7 linked regions of the Homo sapiens genome follow. The protein of the gene in region 6 interacts with the protein of the main gene of each other region in a biochemical or structural test. Each region holds a gene or a part of one and is shown on either strand. Other genes may lie near its edges. The genes, in order: CAND1, FBXW2, SEC23B, FBXL4, SUGT1, SKP1 and GLMN.

What was found.
Region 1: the proteins of SKP1 (region 6) and CAND1 form a complex in vitro, tested with the Homo sapiens proteins (one study listed by BioGRID).
Region 2: the proteins of SKP1 (region 6) and FBXW2 form a complex in vitro, tested with the Homo sapiens proteins (2 studies listed by BioGRID).
Region 3: the proteins of SKP1 (region 6) and SEC23B interact in a test that uses a peptide from one of them, tested with the Homo sapiens proteins (one study listed by BioGRID).
Region 4: the proteins of SKP1 (region 6) and FBXL4 form a complex in vitro, tested with the Homo sapiens proteins (one study listed by BioGRID).
Region 5: the proteins of SKP1 (region 6) and SUGT1 form a complex in vitro, tested with the Homo sapiens proteins (2 studies listed by BioGRID and IntAct, with this or other methods).
Region 7: the proteins of SKP1 (region 6) and GLMN form a complex in vitro, tested with the Homo sapiens proteins (one study listed by BioGRID).

Annotation. Positions count from the first base shown.
Region 1 is NC_000012.12:67,275,858-67,279,357, forward strand, and holds part of CAND1 (cullin-associated NEDD8-dissociated protein 1), read left to right. Parts: intron 1-3,500. UniProt on the Homo sapiens protein: Key assembly factor of SCF (SKP1-CUL1-F-box protein) E3 ubiquitin ligase complexes that promotes the exchange of the substrate-recognition F-box subunit in SCF complexes, thereby playing a key role in the cellular repertoire of SCF complexes.
Region 2 is NC_000009.12:120,759,446-120,762,416, forward strand, and holds part of FBXW2 (F-box/WD repeat-containing protein 2), read right to left. Parts: 3' UTR 1-2,971. UniProt on the Homo sapiens protein: Substrate-recognition component of the SCF (SKP1-CUL1-F-box protein)-type E3 ubiquitin ligase complex.
Region 3 is NC_000020.11:18,549,440-18,552,939, forward strand, and holds part of SEC23B (protein transport protein Sec23B), read left to right. Parts: intron 1-1,649; coding exon 1,650-1,736; intron 1,737-3,500. UniProt on the Homo sapiens protein: Component of the coat protein complex II (COPII) which promotes the formation of transport vesicles from the endoplasmic reticulum (ER).
Region 4 is NC_000006.12:98,878,447-98,881,946, forward strand, and holds part of FBXL4 (F-box/LRR-repeat protein 4), read right to left. Parts: intron 2,179-3,500; coding exon 2,107-2,178; intron 1-2,106. UniProt on the Homo sapiens protein: Substrate-recognition component of the mitochondria-localized SCF-FBXL4 ubiquitin E3 ligase complex that plays a role in the restriction of mitophagy by controlling the degradation of BNIP3 and NIX mitophagy receptors.
Region 5 is NC_000013.11:52,676,836-52,680,335, reverse strand, and holds part of SUGT1 (protein SGT1 homolog), read right to left. Parts: intron 363-3,500; coding exon 181-362; intron 1-180. UniProt on the Homo sapiens protein: May play a role in ubiquitination and subsequent proteasomal degradation of target proteins.
Region 6 is NC_000005.10:134,150,693-134,152,950, forward strand, and holds part of SKP1 (S-phase kinase-associated protein 1), read right to left. Parts: 3' UTR 1-2,258. UniProt on the Homo sapiens protein: Essential component of the SCF (SKP1-CUL1-F-box protein) ubiquitin ligase complex, which mediates the ubiquitination of proteins involved in cell cycle progression, signal transduction and transcription.
Region 7 is NC_000001.11:92,250,488-92,253,987, forward strand, and holds part of GLMN (glomulin), read right to left. Parts: intron 1-3,500.

The sequences.
Region 1 (3,500 bases), on a different chromosome or scaffold from region 6:
AAAGGAATGAGATGGCACTGCCTACAGGTCATATCAACCTGGGAATTCCATTGAAGTCTGAAACGTAAACATTTATCTTTTTCTTTTCCCGTCTTAATGCCTTCTTTATCCTTATTTTGGCCTGTTAAATTACCATCCACTGAAAGTCACAAGCAGAAAATCTTTGATATCACCCTTCTCCCGTCTGTCTTCTTTAGTCTCCTGATGAGTATTTCTCAAATTAATCTTGCTGTCTCAGGCCTCTTCCTAACCCAGTTTGTTCCCTCTGGCCATTAGAATTTTCTTCCTATATACTGCAGCTGATCATTGCCTCCCTCACTAATTTCCATTGACTACAAGATAAACTCCAGATTTCTTAGCTGTTGCCCATCTGAATTCGTAGAGACTGCTCTCCTAAAATCCCCAACAGTCTCCCTAGTCTCCTAATATAACTCATTTAGTGGATATTTTCTTTGCTCATCTATTTGGTATATTTTTTTAAATCACTTTTTCCTTCTTGGAATTCTCTTATATGGGCATCCTGACACGAGTTGGGTTTTTGTCCGTAATAGTCAGGGAAAACACACACTTTAGGGTATCAGAGGATGTTAGAAGGAACCTATTCATTTGGGTAATTTGGGAAAGAGTCTAAGGAAGTGAAGCCTTGCTTTAGGTTGAGTGTTGTCAGAAAGTGAGGTCAATTCTATGATTCGGCCTCTTAATAAATTTTACAGGGAGGGCTGACCTAAGCAGGGGGAAAGCTGTAGTTGGTAAAGAAGTATCAGTCACTCATTTAACTGGAGAGGGGAATGTTTGGTATTTTGTATTGCTCAGGGACCTTGTCCGAAATGGATGTTCTGTGAGATTGTTTATGTCCAAGAAAACAATATGCCTTAGCTGTTAAGCATCAGATCGGTTAGTAATAACACTGAGGTTTAGTTATGAGTCTCAGATAAGTTTCTGGAATGTGGAGGCTGCTGTTTTTTTCTTTATCAGTGCCCACTTTTGGCCAAGGGTAGACAAAGTTGGGCTGCAGGACATTAATTTTTGATTTTCACATCTTCACTATGGCGGAGATTTTGTTAAGATCAGAGGAATATCCATTCCATGTAGTTTGCAGTTTAACCAAAGTTAATCCTTTCTTCTGTTGTAAGATGAGCAGTTTATTCATCTGATGTGACAATGGCTGCAGGGTAACATTAAGACTCTGGACAAGGATATGTTAGCTGACTGTATTACCCAGTCTTGTGGTTTTCCTTTTACTTCTTTCCTGCTAGCTCATCCTTACCATCCCTATATCTAATCCATTTTGAAGAACTATTAATTTTAGTTTGTAAAATTCAAACCAACTAGTTCTCATTATTTGTAGTATGTTTTGTAACATTATCACAAACACTGAGTTAGCAAGTACTGAACCATTGCTTCTGAGGGAATTATGGAATTAGTTTCTCTGAGTCCTGAGTCACATTATTTTAATCAGTTGATGAGTTTGTAACCTCGTTTTATGAGTGTTTCTTTTAAAGTTGTCTTAATATATATTGCTGATTTATTAACATTGAATTCACAGCCAATAAAGAAGCTTATCTAACACATATGTTTTTTTCAGAAGGCACATTATAGCCTTCTTGCACTTAGGAATGCTAGACAGCATTTCAGCACTGTGCTTGGAGGCCATATTAAACAACAAGAGCGCCAAGAAAAAGCACAAACATGTGAAAAACATGGGCTGAAATAGGCCAAGAAGAAGATGCTTGTTTACAACATGAGAGCTGGAGCTAGAAGGCAGAGTGTTGCTTTGTGCCACCACAGCTGGGAATGTATGTGTTGGATTACTCAAAATTTTCACCACTCGACACTCATCCAAATGACTGTGAAATAGGAAGCATTAATTTTGCTTTACAAATAAATGTTAATGAGTAGGTGAATTTGCAAATATGGAACCTGGGAATAATGAGAATCAACTGTATGTCATTTTTTTTTCCATCTTCATTGATTGCCATAACCTAAGTCAGGCCATCATAATTTCTAACTTAGTCATTCTCCTAACTAGTCTCCATTCAGTATGGCCAAATGAAGATTTGTTCTCTCCAAAGTATGGTCCACAGTATAGCTGGAGTAATGTTTCTGAAATGTAAATCTGATCATTGCATTTATTCCCCATCTGTAACCCAGTTGTTTTTCAGTAGCTTCCCACTCTCTTAGAATAAAGGCTAAAATCCTGATATGGTCTACAAATCCTTTAAATTCCTGGCCCTTGCTTACCTGGCACTAACTTCCTCCTGCTTCACCGTAATTTTGCCTACTCTTTATTTATTTTTGAGACAGAGTGTCACTCTTTTGCTCAGGCTGGGGTGCAGTGACGTGATCTTGACTCACTGCAACCTCCACTGCCCGGCTTCAAGCGACTGCCGCCCAGGTTCAAGCATTTCCCCTGCCTCAGCCTCCCAAATAGGTGGGATTACAGGCATGTACTACCATGCCTGGCTAATTTTGTATTTTTGGTAGAGACGGGGTTTCACCATGTTGTCCAGGCTGGTTTGGAACTCCTGACCTCCACCTGCCTAGGTCTCCCAAAGTGCTGGGATTACAGGTGTGAGCCACCATGCCCAGCTCCTACTCTTCAGATCAGTCTTTCCTGACACAACCCGCAGTTCAGTCTAGGTCATGTTACTTTGTTTATATGATAGTGCTTTCTTGTTTTGGGATGAATCTCACTCTGTCACCTAGGCTGTAGTGCAGTGGCTCAATCTCGGCTCACTGCAACCTCTGTGTCCCAGGTTCAAGCGATTCTCCTGCCTTAGCCTCCCAAGTAGGTGAGATTACAGGTGTACACCACCACACCCAGCTAATTTTTGTAATTTTAGTAGAGACAGGGTTTCACCATGTTGGCCAGGCTGGTGTCGAACTCCTGACCTCAGGAGATCTGCCTGCCTTGGCCTCCCAAAGTGCTGGGATTACAGGCGTGAGCCACTGGCACCTGGCCCCATAGTGTTTTCTTGATAACACTTTCCTTCATAGCATTTATCTTAGTTCTTAGTTCTACAGGTGCTTACTCATACATGCAATTTAAAAAGTTAATATGCCTTTTACTAGACTGCAATGTAAGCTCCAAGACAGCAAGAATTGTGTGTGCTTTGGTTAGCCCTTATATCAGCAAAAACTAGTACAGTACCTGATATGTAGTAGGTTCTTATTACACAGTGTATGAGTATATAACGCCATTCCCATTTTGACCTCAGCCTATATTCCCATCATCTTCCTATTAGGTTTCTGTGCTCCACATACTGAACTGTTTCCTTAGTCCTTCACTCTGAGGTGCTCTGTCCTTCCCCACCACCAAAAAAAAAAAAAAAAGTAATTTAAATTCCAAACCAATTTTTCCCATGCAAACCCCTGTTCATCCTTTGAGATCCAACCTAACAGTCAACTCTTGGGTGTGATAATTTCCATATGCTCTTGAGTAGTGTTTTATAAAATGTATTGAGATCTGTGCCCTTAGCACCATACCTAAAAGAGTAAAT
Region 2 (2,971 bases), on a different chromosome or scaffold from region 6:
ACAGTTCAAATATAAACTTTATCTCATGCCCTCTAAATCACAACATACATCAAATTCGTGAAATATGAGTTGATTACTTTTTCCACATTGCTATAGATGTTGGATTGCTGACAGAACTATCTCTTCAACCTGAGCATTCTCATCAAGTATACTAAGTCTAAATCAGTGAAATATGCCTGTTCACAATCTGAGTACAAAGACACCAAAACATGAGCTTTTATCATCTGAATTACTAATTTTCCAGGGTTGAATATTAAAAACACATATTTACTTGGGCACATTTATGAAGAGTAGAAGTAGCTGAATTCTTTAGGCTGCAATAATTAAGTGGGTTTACACTGGTCAGGATTGAATTACTAAATTTAAACAACTGAACTGTTCCAGGAAAGACAAGAAACACTGAAACATCCTAACAGCAAAACAGCTTTTTGCACTGAGCGTGACCATTCAGTCTGATTAGGCTGATGGGAATGGTGCAAAGACTACTCAGTAATCCATTTGAGGATTTATTCTGAAAAAAGTTTACTTTCCTAGAGCAGGCATGGGGAACCTTTGATCAGAAACACTGCCAAAGATGGCTAATGGGCATTGTGTCAAAAAAGTGAATCTGTTCTTTTCATCAGACATTCTGAGGACAGCATAATTCTCAAGTGTCTTGGTTGTCTAAACCAAGCGAAAGCACCAGCGTAACCAGGTAGGAGGGCTGTGTCAAGAAGACGGACCTAAAGGGCTTCTCCCCTATCCTGACAACTGTGTCCACAGGCAAAGGTGACAGTATGCCCTGCCCGGACTGCATCATGAGTAGCAATCTGATTCTGCTCGCTTCCCAACAGAGAAAGGCAAGTGGCTTCATACACCAAGGCCCAGAGGAAGAGGCACAGAAAGCTATAAAAGTGATGCTGGGGCCGGGCACAGCAGCTCACGCCTGTAATCCCGGCACTTTGGGAGGTAGAGGCGGGCAGAACACGAGGTCAAGAAATCAAGACCATCCTGGCCAACATAGTGAAACCTCGTCTCTACTAAAAATACAAAAATAGCTGGGCGTGGTGGCACGCGCCTGTAGTCTCAGCTACTCAGGAGGCTGAGGCAGGAGAATCGCTTGAACCCAGGAGGCTGAGGTTGCAGTAAGCCGAGATCACGCCACTGCACTCCAGCCTGGGGATAGAGCAAGACTCTGTCTCAAAAACATACAAAAAAAACAAAACAAAACAAAAAAAACAGTGATGTTGGTAGGATTCACCTCTAGGCAATCTGGAAGCCACACAGTAACAACTTCAAGTTGCCAGCTGGGTTTGGTCAAAGAAATGTGTAAAGCCAGGATCCACTATCCTTAGCTGATTCTGTTAGATCAAAATGCCTAATACAAACAATTTCCTCATGTCTAAAATACTGTTTCCGAAAGTTATTTCTTTTGTTTTACAAATAGAGAGCAGTAATCATTTTCCTATGAATACTAGAATGATTATATAATCCTCATTCAAACCTCACACCAAGTGTTTTCAACAGCCAGAACAGAGCAATTTTTAAACTACGAAAAATGAAGTGCAAACCTTACAATTTCATAGCAATGTTCCCCACGTTTCACTCATGAACAGCTATCCAATTGCATGCACCTTCCTGCAGAACTTCTTCCAAGTCCAGTCCTTCCACTGGAGGGGCTTTCTTCCTATTTCTCCAATAGGTCTAAAATGTCAGGTTACAGTCAGATTTGGCAATGTGTATTACTTCAAATGATTGAGCTGGAGGAAACTACATTCCTTTGGAATGATGACAGAATCTATCAGAAACTTCACACATCCACTCAGCTCTCCTGGATCCCTGTCCACACCATGAAGCCTGAAGTTGTTATGATGGCCTTTATGAACCTGAAAGAAGCCGCTGGCTTCCACCACACCACAGTGTCACCCAAGAAATCCAATCCTTGTAAGAAAGGATAGGGCTTATCTTCTCATGACTTAGAATTTTTCAGAAATGAGAATATTCACAAAAGAGGGAAAGGCAATTCCCTTACCTATGCGCTAAGGAAGCCAAAGTCAGTGTGTGCAAGAGCTAGCTCTCAAAGGCAATGAAAGGAGAGTAAAGAATAGTTTTAGTTATCCCCTATCCACTTCTCATTCTGACTCCCCACTTTGCTTTCTTTTGCAAAAAGGATGAGCTAGTTTTCCATTTTTATAAAAACTGGCGATAGTATGAATAAACCCAGCATCTATAAAGTAGTTGAATAAAATCTCAGGCCAAATAAAGGCCTCCATAAGGAAGAACTGACATTAGGACTCCAATTACTGCCTGAAGTTCTGCTGTCAAAATCCAGCTGCATGATGATGCCACTGTACTCCAGCCTGTATGACAGAGCAAGACTGCCTAGGAAAAAAAAAAAATTCCAGCGGCACCAAGTACCACCTTGATGACTTCTGTATTCACCACTAAAAACTGAAATAGAACATACTATATACAGCTTCAAGTTTGTCACTTTTTAATAAAACTTTTCCCACAAATGATTATAATTACTTGCCCTTTGAAGCTATTGGATAGATCTGAAAGTGAGGTAGGGTGGGGATGGTCATTAGATCAGTAATAGTTATCTGTTCAGGCTCGATAAAAAGTAAAAACTCGGCCAGGCGTGGTGGCTCACGCCTGTAATCCCAGCACTTTGGGAGGCCAAGGCAGGTGGATGACCTGAGGTCAGGAGTTCAAGACCAGCCTGGCCAACATGGTGGAACCCTGTCTCTACTAAAAATATAAAAATTAGTTGGGTGTCATGGCAGATGCTTGTAATCCCAGCTACTTAGGAGGCTGAGGCAGGAGAATCACTTGAACCCAGGAGGCGGAGGTTGCAGTGAGCCAAGATCGTGCCATTGCACTCCAGCCTGCGCAGTAAGAGCGAAACTCTGTCTCAAAAAAAAAAAAATAATAATAAAGTAAAAAGTCATTTACCATCATCATTGCCCAAAGTCTCCTGGGGCTTCTGCAA
Region 3 (3,500 bases), on a different chromosome or scaffold from region 6:
GTACAGATGCATATTTTTTTCAAATATTTTCAGTCCAAGATTGGTTGAATTTATAGATGTGGAACCCACCGATACGGAGGGCCAACAGTATTCACAAAAAGTATGTAACATAATAAAATAGATAAGTCCTTATGTAAAAATGTTACATGAAAAAAAGTCAAAATAGAAACGTTTCTAAATATTCCCTGCAAAAATAAAGAACTATATGGAAAAAAACAAAATATCAATATTTGTTGTACTTGGGTACACATTTAAAAATTTTCTTTATCGAGTACCACTTACTTTTATTATTGAAATAATTACTAAAATAGCAGGGGGATCACATGACATCAGGAGTTTGAGACCAGCCTGGCCAATGTGGCGAAACCCCATCTCTACTAAACATACAAAAATTAGCTTGGAATGGCGCCAATAATCCCAGCTACTTGGGAGGCTGAGGCTGGAGAATCACTTGAACCCCGGAGGCGGAGGCTGCAGTGAGTTGAGATCGCGCCACTGCATTCCAGCCTGGGCAACAGAGCAAGACTCCCTCTCAAAAAATAAAAATAAAAAAGAAATAATTACATATATAAAAATTATATGTGTATATGTAAATATAATAAATTATATATGTATATATAAGAACTATGTATATAAATATATATGTATATGATTATATATGTATATATAAATATAAATTATATACTTATATAATATAAAATATTACTTACAAATAAATAATAAACGTATTTTTTTTTGAGATGGGGTGTCTGTCACCCAGGTTGGAGTACAGTTGTGCGATCTTGGCTCACTGCAACCTCCGCCTTCCAGGTTCAGGTGATCCTCCCACTTCAGCCTCCTGAATAGCTGGGACCACAGGCACGTGCCACTACAGCCCGGCTAATTTTTTGTGTTTTTGGTAGAGATGGGGTTTTGCCATGTTGCCCAGGCTGGCTTTGAACTCCTGGGTTCAAGTGATCTGCCTGCCTTGGCCTCCCAAAGTTCTAGGTTTACAGGCATGAGCCACTACGCCCAGCCATAATTTATATTTTGTAGTAAACTTTAAAAACTTGTATTAAATGCTGCTTTTCATATAGGTATCCGTATTCTGTCTCATCTACAGAGAATGTCTGTAGAGATTGCTAAAATACATACAAAACTGAGAATATTCAGAATTATTTTTCGTTCCAAGATCAAAAGATATCATTAAGCCTGGACAACATAGTGTGAGACCCTGTCTTTACAAAAAATAAAAAATTAGTTGGGCGTGGTGGCATGCACCTGTAGCCTCAGCTACTCAGGAGGCTGAGGTGGGAGGGTCACTTGAGCCCAGGAGGTCGAAGCTGCAGTGAGCCAGGGTCACATCACTTTACTCCAGGCTGGGTAACAGAGCAACACCCTGACTCTTAAAAAAAAAAAAGGTATCATTAATCTCCGTTCTCAATTGATGAGGAATTATTTGGAGCCTATTTTTCCTACAAAGTTGAGAATGAGTCAGAAGCAGAAAGTGGAAGTATGTCAGGAAGAAAAGGGGTGACTTACTGTGCTGGGCACCATTTGTAAATAGCCTTTGCTGTGGATACCAGGCATGGGATCAGGGTCGGGTGGAAGTGGTTGCTGTGTGGGGAGCAGGGAAGACCAATGCCATCTTTCTCTCTCTTTTTCTTCAGCCAGTACTCTTGGATAGCAGCAGCATTCTAGCTGACAGAATTTTGCTGATGGATACTTTCTTTCAAATTGTCATTTATCTTGGTGAGGTAAGATGATATTATTAATTAATTAATTTCTTTTTGTTTTTAAATTGGAGAAAAGGCATACACATTTAATGTGCACACAAGGAGAATTATTGTCCTTAACTATGGTTTTTGTTTTCTTCTCTTATTTATTAAGTTAGGTTTTTAATGACATTTGTAACCACAGTTTGGGCTTAGAAAGCACCATGGCTTTTATTCTAGTAAATCCCTGGAGTATTTGTATATTTATTAATTTTAATCATATTTGCTGTTAAGTATGGGCCAGGTGCAGTGGCTTATACCTGTAATCCCAGCACTTTGGGATGCTGAGGTGGGCAGATCACCTGAGGTCAGGAGTTCAAAACCAGCCTGACCAACATGGCAAAACCCCATCTCTACTAAAAATACAAAAGTTAGCCAGGCGTGGTGGCACACACCTGTAGTCCCATCTACTTGGGAGGCTGAGATGGGAGAATCACTTAAACCCGGGAGGTTGAGGTTGTAGTGAGCTGAGATCACACCACTGCATTCCAGCCTGGTCAACAGAGTGAAACTCCATCTCAAAAAATAAATAATAATAATAATAATATATGCTGTAAAAAAATCTCAGGTGGTTATTTTAAATCACTGTAAATTATTACCTTCGAAGTTAGGCAAAACTAGTTTTTTCTCCTCAGTAAATATTTTATACATACTGCTGTTCTTTCAGAGTTATATACATACTGCTGTTCTTTCAGAGTTAGTGTTTAGAGCTAAGGTTGTACTTTGATGAAATAACATGGCCCAGGGAACTTTACGCTGTGTCTGTGGATCCCTAGGATGGCTGTGGATAGCTTTCAGTCCATTTCTTTCTCAGTGGGGTTCATGCCCTGAGAAAGGGAATGGCTCCTCTGAATTATTTGCATCTTTATGGCAAAAAATCCTTTAATGAAGATGATGGTGATATTTATATTCAGTGATGCTTTTTCTTCTATTGTATGATCTCTACCTTCTTAAATTGGTTATTGATTTGGTTTCCTAATGGCCAACCATTAGAAATGATTTCTGATGTCGTGAAAAGATATAAATTGTGTTTCAGGATTCCTTCAGTAACTTAGGAAGTGTTAGTTTTCTAATACTCCTAAGTATTTTATAACTTTAAACTTTTTTCAGCATGTTAACACCCAGTCTGCTAGCCACTTGCACGCAAGTGCTAGGCTGTCAGTAATAGTCCTAGACTGAGAGCCGGATGACCAGCTGCTCTTCCCACTGGAACCTTTGGTATCAGTACAGTTGGCCCTCTGTATCCACGGGTTCCACCTCTGCAGATTCAATCAACTGCAGGTTAAAAATAATTTTGAAATAATAATAAAAAATAATACAAATAAAATATACAGCACAGGCCGGGTGTGGTAGTTCATGCCTGTAATCCCAGCACGTTGGGAGGCCGAGGTGGGCGGATCATCTGAGGTCAGGAGTTCAAGACCAGTCTGGCCAACATAGCGAAACCCTGTCTCTACTAAAAATACAAAAATTAGCTGGGCATGGTGGCAGACACCTGTAATCCCAGCTGCTCGGGAGGCTGAGGCAGGAGAATCGCTTGAACTCAGGAAGTGGAGGTTTCAGTGAGCTAAGATCGAGCCAGTGCACTCCAGCCTGGACGACAGAGTGAGACTCTGTCTCAAAAAACAAAACCAAAAAAACAGCACAAGAACGATTTATATAGTTTCTACATTGTATTAGATATTATAAGTAATCTAAAGATGATTTAAAGTGTATGGGAAGATGTACATCGGTTATATGAAATAC
Region 4 (3,500 bases), on a different chromosome or scaffold from region 6:
TCCTCCTACATCAGCCTCCAGAGTAGTTGGGACTATAGGTTTGAGCAACCATACCTGGCTTCCTAATTTCATTAGGAATCTCCACTCCACCCCCAAATACACAGCCTTTAAAATTGATTATCCTTTAGAGGTAATTTTCCATGGGTCAACTCTGGAAAATGCTAACTTAAAATAATACAATTTCAATTATAAGCATATATATAATTCCAACAGTAAAGAGTCTATGGCCAGAGGCTTGATTTTCTAAGGAATGTTGCTCCAGTTTAAGGGGAGGTAAATAACAAGCAGAATAAGGTACATCTAAGCAAAGTTAAATGGTCCTTACCAATCTAAAGAGAGCAGGCTAGCAATAAGGAAGATCCAAGTGGCAGTAACTGGCTGGTTTGTTGTGACAGAAACTGCCATCAAATGTCATCGGGTCCATCAAGAAGAGTCACTGAAGAGACCCACAGAAGCCTATCAAATGGCTTACTATGGAAAGAATTTGACCAGAAGTGAGGAAAATCTAGTGGGCTCCCAAGACTGTTTCTAGAGACTGAGATGGCCTGAGCCCATACTTAGGGTTTAATAAGACCTAACCACAAGATTTTAAAGACCATGGGGACACAGAGATAAATATGTCATCAAAAGAGGCCTACTTAGTCTACACTGCCAAATCTTGAGGCATTTCTGAAGCCACACTGAGCTCTAAGAGGTGTTCAAATGGTACTCATTTTAGGTCAGGGACCCTGTCTATTGACTCTAATAAAATATTTCTCAAAATGTAAGGTTACTTAAAGCAAATACTCCCTAGCATACCAGAAGTTTTCTAGAATCTTGCAATCATTTTGCTAATTCAAGTCTTCCTACTAAGTGAATGCAAGGCAGAAATGGAATGGTCTGGGGATCTCCTAAACCTACATTGTTTTAGGGAACAGGGGATGAAGTGAGGAGGAATGAATTCTTCCAGTCAGTTACACTGGAAGATTCACTTACGGTATGTGTGCACACAAACACACACATGCACACCTTCTCCACACAAGATTTCTATTGTCCTTTATATCTCAGTATTATTTAAAAGCTATATAATTATGTGGTTTAGATTAAAACATTTAACTCTTTCCATGAGCTCTTTCAAGGGCACATAAAATCGTATTTTAAATCTGGAAGGACTAGGCTGGGCGCAGTGGCTCACACCTGTAATCCCGGCAATTTGGGAGGCCGAGGCGGGCGGATCACAAGGTCAGGAGTTCAAGACCAGCCTACCCAATATGGTGAAACCCAAGACCAGCCTGCCCAATATGGTGAAACCCAAGACCAGCCTGACCAATAGGGTGAAACCCCATCTCTACTAAAAATACAAAAAAATTAGCCGGGCATAGTGGTACATCCCTGTAATCCCAGCTACTTGGGAGGTTGAGGCAGGAGAATTGCTTGAATCCGGGAGACGGAGATTGCAGTGAGTCAAGATCGCGCCGCTGCACTCCAGCCCGGGCAACAGAGCAAGACTCCATCTCAAAAAAAAAAAAAAAAAAAAAAAAATCTGGAAGGACTTTGAAGCTTATCTAGTCCAACAGTCCCTAGGCTTTTATATTTCACAGACCAGTAAAATTTCCACACACAAAAAAGAGTTCCAACATAGGGTGTTAATCTTTCTGTTTTGACCAGTAAGGACAGTAAAACAAACACAAAAACAAACAGATAAAATAAACCTATCTATTATCATTAAAATTTCAAGAAAAGTATCTCAGGATTTAAAAGCTAAAATGAGCTTAGTGAAAAACTTACTGAACTATCGGCATTTAGGTATGACTAACACCTTAGTTTGTGAAGAAACCTAGAGAGGTGATTAGCTTGTCGGAGACAACATCTGGCTTGAGGCAGAACTATACTCTATTCCACCACACTATACTTCTTTCCTTGCTCTCATGGATAAATAATGTCAGTGTTTCAAAGACATACTTTCCAATTTAAGAAAAATGTTTGAAAGCAAGGGACAAAGAAGAGAACCATAAATCTGAAAAACTGTGGGTGTGTGTGGGGTAGGGTGAGTCAGGATACATTTCACCCATAGGAAGAAAAAGAGAACAAGTAATTGAGTAGTATAAAGAATTCTCAAACACTTACCATGACACAACTGCCTAAACTGAGGTGCTGAAGCTCTGAACAGAAGTTCAAAATGCTGAGCAGTGCTGTTTGCTGCCATTAGGGACCACATCAGAGGCAAATATGGAAAGTGAATGAAAGTGAAACAAAGAGAAGAGGTCAATTAGACATTAAAGGCTGTCACTGCTTTTCCTGAAATGCAGCTCAAAAGCTAGGTTACAGAGTCCACAAATGCCATTTAATGAGTCCCCAGAGGCTCCACCATTGATTGGCTTGGAGTCAAGGTAATCATTACTAGTCTCCATGTAAGTAATCACTTTGTGTATGGTTTTGGATGCCCTAAAGATACCTATATTCCCTATGACCTCTCGGTTCATTTCCCAAAGGTAAGCAATTTGAAAGTCTGGCTACAATTGAACAACAAGACAAGCTAAACCACTCCTCCCTCCAAAAACAAAAACAAAAAGACAAAAAACCCGCAGCAGGCTGGTGACACTCCTGAAGAATGGCTGCAGCTCTGACATTCACTGATCAGCTGCAGCTTGATGGAACTGCCAATAGAGTCACCCCAAATCAGGATTGAGCTGGTGACTTTAATGTCAAAGGATTCTCTTTGCTGACAAGGATACCAACAACCATTGAGCACCTGTCAGTAGCAACATGCTGACTGAAATATATATAATATGTACTTTCTAGTCATGTTCCTGCCATTTAAGCCCATCTATCCTGTGCAATGAAAATGGTCTCACCACTAAAGAAACCCAAAGACTGCTACATAATCATGGCACCCTAAAATATTTTTTTAAAAAAGTCTGCTATGAAAAATTGTGAAAAACAAAATAATGCAAAATATTCAAATTTCTAATTTTTCTTTTATCAATTAAGGAGAAAACTATTCAAACTTACATGGCAAAATATCTTATACATTTTTAAATATATTTAAAAATTAAGATATTATACAACTTCTGTAAAAATCTGTTCCAAGTGATCAGAAACTAAAAACTATCAGTTGAGGGAAAGGTGAAGAATGTGTCAATGAAAATGTAAAACATTTGGTCAAATCCCAGATAAAGATTCTCATTGAGAAAATAAAGTAATAAAATATTTCTCAAATGTAAGGTTACTTAAAGCAAAAATAATAATAGTTACAATAGGCCACAGAGGACTATTATACTTAAGTCTAATTATTTCATTATTGAGCATTTCTTTGAATTTAAACAAAAAAAGTTTATATTGATTTTATACTTAAGTTTCAACATAACAACATTTATAAAACAATCCCATGTAGCTCTCAGAATGTTAACATTAGAAAGGGTATATTAAGATAATTTAATTTTCAGGTTCTTCACAATACTTAGCCATGTTAACTAATTAACAGACAGGAACATAACATTAGGTTTGTTTTTTTTTTAATT
Region 5 (3,500 bases), on a different chromosome or scaffold from region 6:
CCATAAGTTTTCAACTTCCTCAAAAATTACTCTTAGAGCAAAAAGAAACGTTCAGACAGACCTTATTCAAAAAGTTCTCCCAGCTATAGTACACGCAATTTGGTCTCACATTACCAATTTTCTCGTTTAAAATATGTAAAATTTGCTCCCATATATATTTCTTTAAGTTTATATTCTTACAAAGGATTTGTTCATGGCACGTTTCACTTCATCAGAACCATCTGAATAGATCTGCTGAAATAATCTGTTTAAAGCTGCATCTCCCTCCAACTTTTCATTCTTTTCTTCTTCTTTGATCTCACCAACCAATTTATCCCAATTTCTTGTATAAGGAGATGATGATGGATATAGGTTCTTTACATCTATGAAGTAAAAAAAGGCAGAAGTAATTAATCAACATGTTTCAATTATGTCGAGAATATGTAAACTTTGTGACCATGTATATGGAACATCTTAGCAAACAGTTTAGGTTACTGAATTTCAGGTATGCAATAAGTGTCTTTCTGGTATATAGGTCAATAACAAAATTCACATTTCTAAAAACTGAGTCAGTTACCATAATGTAAAATCTGGGGATTTCTTTTGAGCAAAATAACTCAATAAAGTGTAAACTTTTGATATGCTATACAAAATTAGATTAAAAGCAGATTCTTCATGTTGATAACAGAAACTAGATGAAAAGTATACAGAACTTTTATGTTTTCAGAAAAGTTGCAGAGACAGTACGAACAATTCTAAAAATGAAATTTTTTAAAGGATGCCTAAGAAATCTTTTGTAACTAAGATTTTAATAAATGTTAAAAATGTGACTTTTTCTAAAGTACTTAGTATCTTTCAGAGTATAAATAGCCTGAAAATATAAATAATCATCCATGCCACTCCATACTCTCCCATCAAAAAAGTAAGATTATTTTAATAGGCAATAACAGTAAGTAATTTCTAAATGTTTAAAGTACTACACTTGATGATCTAAAGTTCAATGCCCACATCCCATACACCTAGCAAATAATAGTATTTGTAGGGCACACTGGAGTAAACAGAGCTGCTTGCAGCGAGAGAGGCTACTGGCCCAGGGGCTCGGGGTACTGCCAAGATTGCTCCAAAGACCAAAGGCATCAAGATCTTGGCACACAAATAATTAGAAAATAACTAGACAACCTAGTAGCTATAGGAGCAGCTCTGTTGACTATCCAATGAAAATATAATGACAGCCTCAAATGTGAGTCACATATATAATTTAAAACTTCCTAGTAACTACATTACTAAAAAGAATCAGGTGAAATGCAGTTTAATAATACATTTTATTTAACCTGATATATCAAATATAGTATCATATTGACTTGAAACCAACAGAGGCCGGGCATGGGGGCTCACACCTATAATCCCAGCACTTTGGGAGGCCAAGTAGGAGGATTGCTTGAGGCCAGAAGTGTGAGACCAGCCTGGGCAACATAGTGAGAGCCCATCTCTATGAAAAAAAAATAATAATAATTAGCTGGGCGTGGTGGCACATGCCTGCAGTACCAGCTACTCGGAAGGTTGGGGTAGAGGACTGCTTGAGTCCAGGAGGTTGAGGCTACACTGAGCCATGACAGTGCCACTGCATTCCAGCCTGGGTGACACAGCAAGACTCTCTCTTAAAAAAAAAAAAAAACCAACAAAAAAAATGAAGATATTTTATATTCTTTTTTTCATACTAACTCTTCAAACTGTAGCATATATTTCACATAGCACATCATCTCAATGCAGACTAGTCATATTTCAAGTGCTCAACAGGTAACATGTGGCTAGCAGCTACTGTGTTGGACAAAAGAGCTACAGTTTTCAAAAAACCCAATTCAAAATTTCCCCATCAGTATGTATTAGGACACATTAGTACTAATCTAAATGTTCCTCCCAATACTGCTCTCTACATCCCTTTTGTCAAAATAGCTGAGAAACTAACATCCACTGTTTTTCTACGCTTTCTCTTCACTTGTAAACCGACTTTCTCCCTGCCCATTCCTCCTCAAAACAAAACAACACACACAACACCAACACATAGTTTTTTTTCAGGGCCAAATATATTGTTTTGAAAATCCTATCCACCTTCCTTCTACTAGATATCCTTCTATCTTTGTACATTTTCACTAGTAGCCAGGTAAAACAAAAAATGCGTGCCATGGTAAGTTAAGAGCCTGGGAAATATGGATTTAATTAATCCTAATGCTGACTCCCAGGAAGGATGAGAACAGAGGTTTTAATCTCTATTTTGTAGATAAGCAAGCTGGGTCAGATAGGTTAAGTGACTTGCCCTTATCTACAGTCTCCAGCTTGCAATACACAGGAATCTGACAAGTATATTAATTTCTTACAAAAACAGGACAGGAAGAGTATCATCTTGAATATCTAAGGTGTTGAGTTTAGAAAAAACATGGTAACTGTAACACTAAAAAGCCTTGATCTTTAATCTCAGAAAAACTTTTAACACCTGGAGATGGCAGATGAACTACTGAGAGATGAGTAATCTAACCTCCCTGCTCATTCACTATAATATCAAATAACTACTAGATACTCATGTCGGCAAAGACTGTTTCCATTGTTAGAAAATGCAACAACAAGCAGTATGCAACAAGTAGACAACGGGTTAACAGAATAACTGGACCCAACTGAGAAGACCTAGATTTTAGTCCTAGACAATGAGAACTGAGGGATAATCTTGAGCTTAACTTTTCTGAGCCTGCAAAATGGGAGGAATACTAAGGGGCTGCCTGTTATGCAGGGCTGTTAGAATTAAGTAAGATACTACATTTAAAGTGATTATATATTTTTTAAAGCTTTCAGCTACATATAAACCTCAGCCTCAAAATCTATTGGAGTCAGTCCTAAAAGAAACACATACATCTTTCAAATAAAGTGTGAAGCAGATGCTTAAATACCTTAAATACCAACTAGATATACTTCAGTCCTTAAAAAGTATCTGTTGGTGTTAATACCCTGATTTTGAAAATTATACCACAGACTACTTAAGAGGTAATCATTGGACTAGTTAAGACACTATCAATGGGGGAAACTGGGTGAAAGCTATATGAGAATCTCTTATTTTTGAAATTTCTAAACATCCAAAATTATTTCTTAAGAAATAACTATACACACACACACAAACACACACACAAATGATCTGTTGAATAACTCAGTGTTTTCTAAAAGGTGCCACAAGGAAATGTGTTTTCTGTTACAGAAGAAAGCAGTCAAAATCAGAAAAAGCTGAGACACATGTTAGCTTGTTTCAGTCATTAAATCAGACCATTACTTCCAATAAAAAGAAATTTCCCTCCACTCATTAATGAAGCTATTGCTATAAAATATAATCTTAGGTTGTAGTTCTGAGTGTGCTGTGAATTTGTCCACTAGAAAAATTCTTACCTAGTTATTGCACATACTTAAAATTGACCTCAACACAAAGTTCTGTTTCTTACAGGGTTATATATACAATGAAGCCTGGTTTTCTACTCTTCTCC
Region 6 (2,258 bases):
GCAGACCCTGGTTGTGTCAACTCCCCCAATCCCAACTTATTGTGATAACCTTGTTCCAAATCTCAAATCACCCTATGGGCATCTTTCAAATTCTGACTCCTGAGCTCTTCTCTAATAGTTTGGAGCTACTAACAAACCATTACTGGCAGTGAGCATCTGAAAATACTCAAAACGGCACCGAGTTTGAAAACAGGAAACATAGATGGTGGGGATGTTCACATACACAGTCCCTTAGAATAAAAGCCTAGCTCAGGTCAGGAAGGATTTTCAAGCTCTTAAAGATAGCATGGGATTAGGCATGTTAACTGGAAAGGGAAAACTTATGTCCTGGGGGTGGGAACTATACTATCACAAGCAGTCCTCACAAGTTAGGTCACTATTGGTAAGGGATGTTTCACTTCTGAAGACAAGATAGCAGCTGTGAATTATGCGGGAGATAGTCCAGGCCAATACTTCTTTCATATTCACCAGGGGCTCTGGACCAAGTCTTCCTTTTTCATTCAAGTGTTCTCATTCTTTTATCTGAAGCCTAGTTCTTTCAGGCATGTGCAATGTCAGGAAGCGGGGTGGGGCTTGGGGAGGGAAGAGGAAAAGCCAGGTTCCACTCACCAAAAATAAATAAATAAATAAATAAAAATTTTTACAAAGCCACTCTGGAAACCCTGCTTGAGTACTTGAGGATAGAGTACAGCTTCTCTATTTTCCCACCCCTTTCCGTAAGCTTCCTGGAACAGAAAAATCTGCAAAGCAACTGAAGAAGGCAGTTAGAGGTTGTGAAATGGTACATTCAGGAAAGAAAGGACAAATAAGAATTTTCACCAGATAGGTGGGAGGTATTCAAAGTGAGAGCACTTTAAGGAAATAAGCTGATCCTCAGTGTGCAATAAGAGGCTGCTATATAGCAGGTTGAAAATTTGAAGTTAAGAGATATCAGAAGGTCTGAATATACTTAAATACTTCCAGAAAATTTAAAGTTGACAGATATCAGAAGGTCGCAAGAACTACAGATGTGGAAGCAGACACTGTTATGAGCAACTACATTCCTCCCATAGAATGCTGCTCAATACTGGCACACAGACCAGAGGTAGCCAGCAGTACACAAGACTGCAAGGCAACAAGTACATTATCAATGAATTAGCCATCTATCACTCAAACTATGTCCCGCATTGGAAGTGTGTCAAGCAAGAGCACCTTCGACAACACTTTTCGGCCACCACTAATGATCATCTCCACTGATGCCTCAGCAGAAAGGATAACATTCAGCCAATCCTGCTTAGGTGTCCAAATGGCTCAATCTTGGGCCAAAGGACATGCTCTGAAATATTTCTTACACCATACTTCATCTTGATATGCACAGCCAGTTCTCTTACTCATTCTCTGTGACCACTGGAGGTAGTGATTTTTAACAACAGTAAACAAGAAAAAGTCATCAGGACTCTAACTGTAAAACCCCCAACATTCAAAAGACTGGTTTAGTTGAACAGCCAAAAAATAAATAAATAAAAATTAAAATTAAAAAAATTAGAATTTAGCTCACTCAAAAATTGCCCTGCCTAATGTGGGTCTGATGAATAAATGCTGATAAAATACTACTGAGTGTCAGCAAAGTACTGTGACTAATCCTGCCCTAATTTCTCTTTAGTCTATATTCTCAGGGAAATGTACCAACACCCAACCTTCTGCTGTTAGTTCCTGACTGTGCACTGCTTTTTCCTCACTTTGGCATCTGTCCACCCCCAAACAAATCCAACTTGATTCTTGAAACCAAATTAGTTTCACTTTACAAAACCTTTCGTAGCACCTTTCAGCTCTGTAGCCCCCCATTGGCTCATTAATCTGTTCTGTCCAGAAACTTTTTTTTTTTGAAACGGAGTCTCGCTCTGTCGCCAGGCTGGACTGCAGTCAGTGGCGTGATGTCGGCTCACTGCAACTTCCGCCTCCCGGGTTCAAGCGGTTCTCCTGCCTCAGCCTCCCGAGTTGCTGGGACTACAGGCATGTGCCACCACGCCCAGCTAATTTTTGTATTTTTAGTAGAGATGAGGTTTCACCATGTTGGCCAGGATGGTCTCGATCTCTTGACCTCGTGATCTGCACACCTCAGCCTCTGAAAATGTTGGGATTACAGGCGTGAGCCACCGTGCCCAGCCCAGGAACATTTTTATTAGAGTTATCCACTCCCTCCCAGCAGTATTTATGCCTTCTCTCCTGAACTACACCAAAAGCTCCCAGCTCCCTAGAGGGAAACCATGTCTAATGCT
Region 7 (3,500 bases), on a different chromosome or scaffold from region 6:
ATTTACATTGCTGTATGTTTTCCCATTCACACGGGGTAAAAGTTTTTCTAGGATACTGTTTTTCAAATTATTTTTGCCATGACTCTCAGTAAAAACTAGGTTTTACATCACAACTCACACGTTTATTTATATAGTTGAAATAAAAGTTTTCCCTCAAATCCTTTCCATATAACACATTTAATCTTAATACTTTAATGTAGAAAAATGGAGAATAAACAATTCAAAAGTAAACATCAGAAAGATTTTTACATAATCAGTGTGCTTGCCTGTTCATGAGGTAATTTCAGTCTAATTCACTATTGAGCCTAGTTCTTTTCTTTTTATTATTTTTCAAAGTCAGGTTTGTTGAGATATTGTTTACATACAGTAAAATATAACCTTCTAGCTATACAATTCTGAGCTTTGACAAAGATATATAGTGATATAAAGTCATGTAACCACTGCTGCTGTAAAGATATTCCCATGACCCAGAAATTTCTTTGTGCCCCTTTGTAGTCAGTTTCCTCCCACCTCCAGCAACCAGCAATCTGATTTTTGTTAAGGTAATTTTTGCCTTTTCCAGAATGCCATAAGTGGAATTAAAACTCTTTGTGGCAGAAATTGACAAAATTCTAAAATTTATACAGAAAAGGTAAAGGATTTAAAAATAGCCAATACAATTTTGAAAAAGAAGAACAAAGTTGGCAGACTCACATTACTTGAGGTCAAGACTTCCTATAAAGGAATAAAACAGAATAATTTCTTCCTATAAAGGAATCAAGACAGTGTGGTATTGGTAAAAGAATAGATACAGGTAAATGGAATAGAGTCCAAAAATAGACCCATACTTATAAAATGATTTTTGATAAAGTTGCCAAGATAATTCAGTAAATTAAGGATAACCTTTTCTACAAATAGTGTTGAGGTCAAAATAAAAGAAAAAAAAATCTCTCAACCCATATCTCATATCATAAAAAGTTTACTTGAAATGGGGTCATTGACCTAAGTGTAAAACCTAAAACTATACAATTTCTACAAGAAATTACCTTTGTGATCTGGGTTAACAAAGACTTCTTAGAACCCATAAATAATGAATCATAAAAGAATAAAATTGATAAGTTGGACTCCATAAATATTAAAATTTCTGTTCTTTGAAAAATACTATTAAAACACAAGCCACAGACTGGAATATTTGCAAAAATATAACCAAAGAATTTGTATCCATGAAAAACTTTCCTCTTGTAGAAGTTCTAAGTTGAAAATTTTTTTCTTTCATCCTTTCAGTTTTACTTTGTAATGGAAATTCTTTTAAATCTGATTCCCAAAACTTTTTTTTTTTTTTTTAAGATGGTGTCTTCTTGCTCTGTTGCCCAGGCTGGAGTGCAGAGGCATGATCTGAGCTCACTGCAGCCTCCACCTACTGGGTTCAAGCAATTCTCCTGCCTCAGCCTCCAGAGTAGCTGGGATTATAAGCGTCTGCCACCATGCCCAGCTAATTTTTTTGTAGTTTTAGTAGAGATGGGGTTTCGCCATGTTGGACTGGCTGGTCTCTAACTCCTAACCTCAGGTGATCTGCCCGCCTCAGCCTCCCAAAGTGCTGGGATTACAGTGATAAAGTTTTATAATCATTCATTGGTACAAATATACAATTAAGCTTCACTAATTCTCTTCAGCCAAAAATTTTAACCAAATTACTAAATCAGGACTTTAAAAAGCAAATGTATCTCTAACCAAACGTTTTCTTTTAATGTTTCAAATTTCTCAAATGGAAATAATCACATATTAATAAAGAGTACTGGCCCAGCGCAGTAGCTCATGCCTGTAATCCCAGATGGGAGGATCACCTGAGTACAGGAGGTTGTTATTGCAATGTGCCGTGATTGCGCCACTGCACTCCAGCCTGGGCTATAGAGTGAGACCCCAACTCAAAAGGAAAAAAAAATTAATATAAATTTAAATAGTCACATGTGTCTACTGTCTACTGTATTGGACAGTGCAAATCTAGATCTTTGAATGTTAAAACCTTAGCTGTTTTCAATGGCAATAGCCCATAATCATAAAACTTCAGGTAATAAAAACACATGCCAAAAGTAGCCTAAAGAAATTTTTTACATATTCTGTTCAGCATAATTCCACAAATTTTTCAGATGATAAACTGTAATATTTTTAGAAGCATGTAGGAGTGAAGAAGCTGTGAGAATAAGAATATTTTTTCTCTCAAGGTTACCAGATCGTTTTTAAAGAAATAATAAATACTACAAAGAAAATCACATTTTAAGATTTCTTAAAATCTTTCAGTGTCTAGAAAAAGTAAATTAAGAGTTTTAAAATAGTTATAATTAAAAATTTGAAATGTTCACAAATACCTGCTTTTAATTTCATACCCAAGGAGGCTTACTGATTTCCAGTTCTAAGGCTTAAAACTATACATTTCAAAATTCACTGTAGCATATCTCTCTCACAAAAGGAAGACTAGGCAGTTCTACACTACAATGAAATTTATTGCCAGAACAGTCAGGAACCCTGCAAAGAATACAGTCAGTGATGGTAATGAAGAAATAAAAAGCCATGAACAAGACCCAGGTTTCCCCTTTCTTCTAATTCATATAGAAGTCATCCGGCTCTGCAAATATTTCATGGATATGTTTTATCTTAGAGAAAGAAACAACTTACACAATATGCCCCTGTACCAAACCTGCACCCCTGAATCTTAAATAGAAATGGAAATTGAAAAAAAACTTAAGCTCTAGATTCCTCCTCTCTCTGGGCAGGGCATCTCTGAAAGAAAGGCAGCAGCTCCAGTCAGGGGCTTATAGATAAAACTTCCATCTCCCTGGGACAGAGCACCTTGGGGAAAGGGTGGCTGTGGGTGCAGCTTCAGCAGACAAACATTCCTGCCTGCCAGCTCTGAAGAGAGCAGCAGATCTCTCAGCACAGCGCTTGAGCTCTGCTAAGGGACAGACTGCTTCCTCAAATGGGTCCCTGACCCCTCGTGCTTCCTGATAGGGAGACACCTCCCAGCAGGGGTCAACAGCCACCTCATACAGGAGAGCTCCGGCTGGCATCTGGCGGGTGCCCCTCTGGGATGAAGCTTCCAGAGGAAGGAGCAGGCAGCAATCTTTGCTGTTCTGCAGCCTCCAATGGTGATACCCGGGCAAACAGGGTCTGGAGTGGACCCCCAGCAAACTGCAGCAGACCTGCAGAAGAGGGGCCTGACTGTTAGAAGGAAAACTAACAAACACAAAGCAATAGCATTAACGTCAACAAAAAGGATGACCCAAGCAAAAACTCCACCCAAAGGTCACCAACAGCAAAGACCAAAGGTAGAAATCCACGAAGACGAGGAAAAAGCAGCGGAAAAGGGCTGAAAATTCCAAGCACACGAACACCTCTTCTCCAAAGGATCACAACTCCTTGCCAGCAAGGGAACAAAACTGGACAGAGAATGAGTTTGATGAACTGACAGAAGTAGGCTTCAGAAGTTGAGTAATAACAAACTCCTCCAAGCTAAAGGAGCATGT